2 linked regions of the Homo sapiens genome follow. The gene in region 2 interacts genetically with the main gene of each other region. Each region holds a gene or a part of one and is shown on either strand. Other genes may lie near its edges.

Region 1 (3,813 bases), on a different chromosome or scaffold from region 2:
TGATAAATAATAGTTCAGAAATTACTAATTTACAAGTCAATATAAATGAGGTGAGTAAACACAAAAATAACAGCATAAATAAACAGTTCATGACTTCACGTTTCTTTTTCTCCTTTAAAATGTAGCTCTGACAGAGACTACTACTTGTCCATTCCATGGAAAAGTCAGAGGTGGTTAAAATGTCAGAGGTACACTTACTAATACTTTGCTGCCTTTTGTGTAGCTTCTTCTCAGTACTTCACCAGTTGGGATTGACACACACCTCTACAGCTGGGTTCAGGAGCCAGACAGCAGCACACAGAACGGGGAATCCAAAGCCATCTCTGACACTAAAAGCAATGAAAACAAAAATAACCAAACATATTATCAAGAAATGAACAAGAGATTGATATCAAGTAAAGCAAGAAGAGAAGAAAGCATTTAATCTGCCAGGCTTTCATTCTGACAAAATAATTTACAACATGCATGTCTCTATCTGACATGAGTGAATAGAAAAAGAACCCAAATACCCAGTTGAATTGCAAGATGAAAATGAAAAAGAACTCTTGCTTATTCGCCAGGGTACAATCTAATCTGGGCTACTAAAACACTTTCATGCACTGATTCTATGTAACACATGCTTTATTGCCATTTGGAAATGGGATTTCTTGCTTTGATTTAAATATACTTCCTTGGATTTGTGCTTTAAGTATACTTTCTTAAACATATTCACAGCTACATTCTCAGTACAAATTTTCAGGTGTAAGTAACTACTTCTGCTTTTGATAGTATAATTGGTGAAATAAGCTATACTTCCATGTAAATGTGAGAGTACAAGGTAAGATTCCAGAGTCAAGTAAAACATAACAGTCAAGAAAATAAAAAGGTGAGAGTAACTGGGCAGTGGGGAAATCTTGTGTGTGGAAAGAATGAATCTGTAAAACTGTTCTTTCCTAAGAGAGTTCAGCAGGATTTGGATGATAGAGAGCTTTGTGTACAAGGGTTCCAGTTCCACATAGTTTAGGTCTAATTTCAAAGGCAACTTCTAGTGCAACCTGTGACTCACGCTGTCCTAAAGTGCCGAATGTAAAGGGTCTGGAGATAACCCACAAGCAGCACTGTGAACCCCTGACAGCAAGCCTTTCCAGATAAATACCTGTCAGTGTCTACAGCTGATGACAGAGCAGAATATCTGAAAAATAATACTTCTTCGGCCAGTGGACTGCCAGTCACTATTATTTAGTGTAAAATACTATATTACATATGTGTAATTTTTTAAATTGCAGTGTTTCACATCGAAGCAATTAAATATAAAAACCAAATGTTTATTCAGCTTAAAGGCAACTTAGAAATACTGATCCCAGATAGAAAGATGCTTTAGTCCCAAGTCAGCTGTTCTAAAATGCCACAACTAAACCAACGAAGGGATCTTGAAGCATAGTAAGTGTTCATACCTTTTCAGCTATACCTCTGCTTGTCTTGAATATAAAAACCTAAGCTGCAGTTATGCCACAGCACAGAATGTGTTATATTTTACATCACTGAGCCTTAGTTTTACAAATGGTAAAAAATAGGGAAGGTAAACTGAGGTTTTCTTAAGGAGCTGTTACATCCAAGAGACTCATGAAAATCTTTGCCAAATGTCCCCGGTACATAGCTCCTCCCCACTGATGGGCTCAACGGGGAGAAGCTATGCACATGTCTCAATTTGCATATGCTCAATGGCAATACAGGATTCCTAGGATAAAGTAAGGGATATAAATGACACAGCACACTGAAAAGACTGTAATGTTACTTCAGAATGTTGCAAAATAAAGATCACAGATGAAAGTTTTAGTTCACTGAAGCATGTAGTCATGTATATTTCATTTGTGTGTTTTAAAGTCTTATACTGCTTACATTCTCTTTTTTTGTTTGTTTTAAAATAATTATATTTGGCTACAAAGATCAATAACAAGGATGATGTCAGTCCAGGTTGGACAGGCAGTTCTGGGGCAGATGTTCTTGCAGTATTTTTTTTTTTTTTTTTTAGTATTTATTGATCATTCTTGGGTGTTTCTCGGAGAAGGGGATTTGGCAGGGTCATAGGACAATAGTGGAGGGAAGGTCAGCAGATAAACATGTGAACAAGGGTCTCTGGTTTTCCTAGGCAGAGGACCCTGCGGCCTTCCGCAGTTTTTGTGTCCCTGGGTACTTGAGATTAGGGAGCGGTGATGACTCTCAAGGAGCATGCTGCCTTCAAGCATCTGTTTAACAAAGCACATCTTGCACCGCTCTTAATCCATTTAACCCTGAGTGGACACAGCACATGTTTCAGAGAGCACCGGGTTGGGGGTAAGGTCATAGATCAACAGCATCCCAAGGCAGAAGAATTTTTCTTAGTACAGAACGAAATGGAGTCTCCTATGTCTACTTCCCTCCACACAGACACAGCAACAATCCGATTTCTCTATCTTTTCCCCACATTTCCCCCTTTTCTATTCAACAAAACCGCCATCGTCATCATGGCCCATTCTCAATGAGCTGTTGGGTACACCTCCCAGATGGGGTGGCGGCCGGGCAGAGGGGCTCCTCACTTCCCAGAAGGGGTGGCCGGGCAGAGGCGCCCCCCACCTCCCAGACGGGGCGGCAGCCGGGCAGAGGCGCCCCCCACCTCCCTCCCGGATGGGGTGGCTGGCGGGGCAGGGGCTGCCCCCCACCTCCCTCCCGGACGGGGCAGCTGGCCGGGCGGGGGCTGCCCCCCCACCTCCCGGACGGGGCGGCTGCCGGGCGGAGGGGCTCCTCACTTCTCAGAAGGGGCAGCTGCTGGGCGGCGGGGCTCCTCACTTCTCAGACAGGGCAGCTGCCAGGCGGAGGGGCTCCTCACTTCTCAGACAGGGCGGCTGGGCAGAGACGCTCCTCACCTCCCAGACGGGGTCGCGGCCAGGCAGAGGCGCTCCTCACATCCCAGACGGGGCGGCGGGGCAGAGGCGCTCCCCTCATCTCAGACGATGGGTGGCCGGGCCGAGACGCTCCTCACTTCCTAGACGGGATGGCAGCCGGGAAAAGGCGCTCCTCACTTCCCAGACTGGGCAGCCCGGGCAGAGGGGCTCCTCACATCCCAGACGATGGGCGGCCAGGCAGAGACGCTCCTCACTTCCCAGACGGGGTGGCAGCCGGGCAGAGGCTGCAATCTCGGCACTTTGGGAGGCCAAGGCAGGCGGCTGGGAGGTGGAGGTTGTAGCTAGCCGAGATCACGCCACTGCACTCCAGCCTGGGCAACATTGAGCACTGAGTGAACGAGACTCCATCTGCAATCCCGGCACCTCGGGAGGCCGAGGCTGGCAGATCACTCGCGGTTAGGAGCTGGAGACCAGCCCGGCCAACATGGCGAAACCCCGTCTCCACCAAAAAAAATACAAAAACCAGTCAGGCGTGGCGGCGTGCACCTGCAATCGCAGGCACTCAGCAGGCTGAGGCAGGAGAATCAGGCAGGGAGGGTGCAGTGAGCCGAGATGGCAGCAGTACAGTCCAGCTTCGGCTCGGCATCAGAGGGAGACCATGGAAAGAGAGGGAGAGGGAGACCGTGGGGAGAGGGAGAGGGAGACCGTGGGGAGAGGGAGAGTGAGAGGGAGAGCCAGAATTTTCTTTTTAAAGGCAGAATAATATTCTATGTATATACCACATTTTTCTTTTTTTGAGACAGGGTCACCTAGGCTGGAGTGCAGTGGCATGATCACGGCTCACTGCAGCCTTGACCTCCCCAAGCTCAAGTGATCTTCCCACCTCAGCCTCGGGAGTAGCATGTACCACCATGCTTAGCTCATTTTTTGTATTTTTAGTAGCTATGTTGTC
Region 2 (4,580 bases):
TATGTATTTACTATACTTTTTATTATATTATTATTTAACTTATTTTTTAAAAGTTAACTGTAAAACAGCCTCAGGCAGGTCCTTCAGGAGGGATTCCAGAAGAAGACACTGTTATAGGAGATGACAGCTCCCTGTGTGTCACTGCTTCTGAAAACCTTCCAGTGGGACAAGATGTGGAAGTGGAAGGCTGAGATTGATCATAATGACCCTGTGTAGGCCTAGGCTAATGTGTGTGTTTATGTCTTAGTTTTTTTAAAAAATGGCTAAAAAGTTAAAAAAAAAAAGAAAAAAAGCAAAGGTAGAAAAAAGCTTGTAGAATAAGGATATAAGAAAAATATTTTTGTACAGTGGTACAGTGTGTGTTTTAAGCTAATTGTTATTACAAAACAGTTAAAACGTAAAAAAATTTGGAAGATTTATAAAGTTATAGTGAGTGAAAGTTTATTAAAGGAAGAAAAGTATTTTTTATAAACTGAGTGTAGCCTAAGTGTACAGTGTTTATGAAGTGTTTAGTGGGTACAATAATGTCCTAGACCTTCATGTTGGGCCACCACTCACTCATTTACTCACCCACAGCAACTTCCAGTTCCGCAAGCTCCATTCATGGTAAGCGCCCCATACAGGTGTGCCATTTTTATCTTTTATACCGCATTTGTACTGTACCTTTTCCATGTTTACATATGTTTAGACACACAGATACTTACCATGAATTACAATGGTCTGCGGTATTCAGTACAGCCCCATGCTGTCAGGTTTGCAGCCTGGAAGCAGCAGGCCACACCACAGAGCCGAGGTGTGTCCAGGCTCCACCATCTAGGTCGTCAAAGTACATTCTGTGGTGTTCGTACAGCAACAAAATCGCCTAATGACGCAATCCTCAGACCTTACCCTGTTGTTAAGGTACACATGACTCTTATTTTGTTCCTCCCGGATTTCCTGCATTAATTTTTACTTTTTAAAATATTACATTAATATATTATTTGATTGCCAGTTTTTCTGGTGCTCCCTTAAATTGCACAGCCTGCCAGCCCTTCCCTGGCTCCCCTTTCTTTTTCTGCTTTTCTTAGTGCTTCAACAGACCTGGGACGTTCTTTTTCTTTCTTTTTTTTTTTAATTTTCTTCTTTTTTTCTTTTTCTTGTTTTGTTTTGTTTTGTTTTGAGATAGAGTTCGCTCTGTTGCCCAGGCTGGAATGCAGTGGTGCGTTCACGGCTCAATGCAGCAACGACCTCCAGGGCTCAGGCGATCCCCCGACCTCAGCCTCCGGAGAAGCTTGGACCACAGGCGCGCGCCACCACGCCCAGCTAATTATATATTTTTTGTAGAGACAGGTCTCACTATGTCGCCTAGGCTGGTCACAAATGTTGCTTTTTTTTCCCTCCAGGCAGAGCTAGTCTCTGTTTTGCCTACCTCGCCCCCTCCTGGGCCCAGTTAGAAACCTCATCACATAATTTCATTTCTTTCCAAACTTGAAACCTTCTAAACTTGAAACCTTCTAAACTTGAAACCTTCCAAACTCACCACTTGGCGGCGTTGATCCATCCGCCCGCGCACAAAGAGAAGATCGCGGAACTTCAGAGTTAAGGGGAGCCGTTTCCCGCAGCGCTAGCCGGCAGTATTTCCAAGGCGCAAGTTGCGGAGTTTCTGTTTCCTTTTTCCTCTGGCGAGCTTTGCGTTCCCTGTGCGCCGGAAGTGATCCCCTGCGTGGCTGGGCTGCTCGGGTTAGATCGTCAGGTGAGGGAGGAAGGGATAGCCAGCGCGAAGGAAGTGCTGGAGTCGTGTGTTTTGGCTGCGCGTGATCCTGCGTGGGTCGGGAGGTGTTTCTGTGTAGGTGTCTGGCCCTTTCATCAGTCGTGCGGAGGACCGCGTGATTTCCTTCCAGTTCTCCTCGGTTTTCAGGTGGTGGCGCCATCTTCGGTAAAGGGTGTCCACCTCTCCCTATGGTGTGGCTGGCTAGCCCGGGGGTCTCTACGCTGCTTGGTCTTTGTTAACGGAGATGAAGGCAGTAATTTTTCAGTAACAGGTTTCAGATATAAGTCCCTTGGTGATGCTAATATTTATGGAGGCCTTACTATGCATTAAGAACTTTTTTAGAAGTTTAGAAAATGGCAGTGAATAAAGCAGATACAAATCTCTGCTCTAAGGGAGCTTGCATAGTAATGAAATTTGAGAAGACAGTGGATTGGAAGTGGGATTAACTCAGAATCAAAATTTTGTCGATGGGTTGGAGGAAGAGGAAGTTATTTGGGACCAAAAAGACATACAGGTGTGAGTTTATTTGGGAGGGAGGAAGGAATCCTCATCAGATGTGCAGGAATGTTGGTACGTTGTGGTCACAAAATTGGAGTGCATAAAAATTATGAATATAGTTAGGAATTTAGGACTGGTGAGTTGTACTTTTGCCATAAGAGGTAATGTTTTTTTCTTATTTTGTTTTTTTCCTTCAGGAAAAGCCTAAAGATTAGACTGTAAGAAAAGAAAATAGAAGCCATGTTTCGAAGACCTGTATTACAGGTAGTCACTTGTCTGTATTAATACTGAGATGTATTACTATCAGCCACAGTGATCAGAAGACTTCTTTAGGCTTTTAACTACAGGGGCAAAAGACCTTTGAGCTCACCCACCCACCTCTATACTCATTTGATATGGAGGATTGGGGACGATTTTGCCAGTGTAAATTATGTTCACTAAAACAAAAAAAAAGTTCAGGTTTATTCACACGTAATAGGAATCATTAATTTTTAAAATGTGTGTGTGTTGCTTGAATTTAACCAGTGAGAGGACATTAAAGGTCTTTAGTGACCTAAAGACTGTAGGAATCATTGTTCCAACTTTTTTCTTAAGGCATGTAGTTGCTTTTTTGACCATCTACCTCCTGTGTTGCTAAACGTTCCTCTTCCCCCATCTTTCCACACTGAAGAGAGCATCTCAAGTCTCAGTGGTCACCAGAGATTTCACTATGTAGAAAATGCCTTCTCATTCCACTTAGTATGGGTCCTCACTTTTCCAGACACTAGCCCACCTTGAGCCAGCTTAGACTACCATTTTTCCTCACTTACCACATTCGGGCACCAGCTCCTGTAGATTCTTCTTTGGCTCTCCTACTCCCCATCCTCCTGTGAAGACCAATGAAGAACCAGTTCCTCCATGACTCTGTCATTTTCCCCACCTTAATCCTATATTCTTGGATCCCCACTTTAACCTGTATGTATCTTTAATCTATTTTTTTCTGTATTGAAATGTGAAACATGAAAAAGTTATTGCTTCTTAACACTAACGTTACAGTATTAAAATGTCTTTAAATAAGAGTTAAAAGTTTAATTTAAAAAATTATCCAAGTTAAATAATCCTTTCCTAATCTTCTCCAGTAGATTTTTGTGTGCCCCAAATGAGACATTGTTATTATAAATCTCTGTGTAAGATTTATGAGGTCTAGCTTGTCTGAGCACTCAAATGACATTTCCAGAATCATGACACAGGTTCTCATTAGCAGTTTGATTCTATAGTATGTTGTACTCATATCTTTATTTTCTTATCTGCCCTCTGCTCCTAAGTTTAGTGATAGGATTAGATAGCCAACAGCACCCTGGGGATTGGTGTTTATTTGATTGGTGGACTTCTGCTTTTTATATTAACAGTACTGCCACTTCAAAAATGTTTCTCTGATAGAATGGCTAGCTCTCTGAGCTCTGAATTCAGTGATGTGTACTCCCATCTTTACAGGAGCTCTTGAAATTAAGGAGGCAGCAGAGGGCTTCGGGAAAGCAGTAGCATTGGTGTCAAGGGCCCTGGGTCCTTGAGATCACTTGCCACATACTTCCTGCAGGAGCTTGGGCAGGTGATGCAGTCTCTCTGAGGTGTTTTCTCAGCCCTAAATGGGAATAATTTTACATAACTTGTAGATTTAGTTTTAGAATTGATAATAGATAAATCCCTTAGCTGATATTCAGTAATGATTGCTGCTATTATGTGGTAGTGACTACCTTTGCTGACAGTGATGTGACTTTGACTTGGACAGTCGAGTCTTTGTGTTTAATCAAAGAACCAAATTTATTAGACCTTTTTTGATGCACTAAAAACAGGAAATTTCCTATGAAATATTTATAAAAACTGTATTAGGCTAAGCTCACTACTGAAGCTGTTTAATTTTTGCAATAGCCTTGTGAAGTAGGTATTATGTATCATAATTTTTGCTTATTTTAAAATGAAACACTTTAGATTAGTCATATTAGGTATCCTAATTCCTTTTAAGGTCTGAAGGAGCAACCAGGGGAAGGCAGTTTCATAGACACAGGGAATCTGACTTTGGAATATGTTCCTGTTGCTGTGTCAGAAAGTCATTCATGTGATTAGTTTTAGAATGTATTGTTTTGTTGGAATGTAACCTATCTCTCGTTCTCTAAACCAGCAGACCCCAACCTTTTTGGCACTGATAACTGGTTTCATGGAAGACAATTTTTCCATGGAGGAGGGGGGTGCCGTGGGGATGGTTTCAAGATGAAACTGTTCCACCTCAGATCATCAGGCATTAGTTAGATTCTCATAAGGAGTGCACACCCTAGATCCCTCGCATGAGCGGTTT

What was found.
Region 1: changes in SSBP1 (region 2) and TIMM23B together harm fitness more than expected from each alone (negative genetic interaction), as found in Homo sapiens cells (one large-scale study listed by BioGRID).

The regions. Positions count from the first base shown.
Region 1 is NC_000010.11:49,969,528-49,973,340, reverse strand, and holds part of TIMM23B (mitochondrial import inner membrane translocase subunit Tim23B), read right to left. Parts: intron 3,300-3,813; exon of another isoform or gene 2,883-3,299; intron 330-2,882; coding exon 277-329; 3' UTR 1-276. UniProt on the Homo sapiens protein: May participate in the translocation of transit peptide-containing proteins across the mitochondrial inner membrane. the PAM complex.
Region 2 is NC_000007.14:141,736,679-141,741,258, forward strand, and holds the start of SSBP1 (single-stranded DNA-binding protein, mitochondrial precursor), read left to right. Parts: upstream 1-1,679; 5' UTR 1,680-1,732; exon of another isoform or gene 1,733-1,915; intron 1,916-1,928; exon of another isoform or gene 1,929-2,320; intron 2,321-2,445; 5' UTR 2,446-2,488; coding exon 2,489-2,512; intron 2,513-4,580.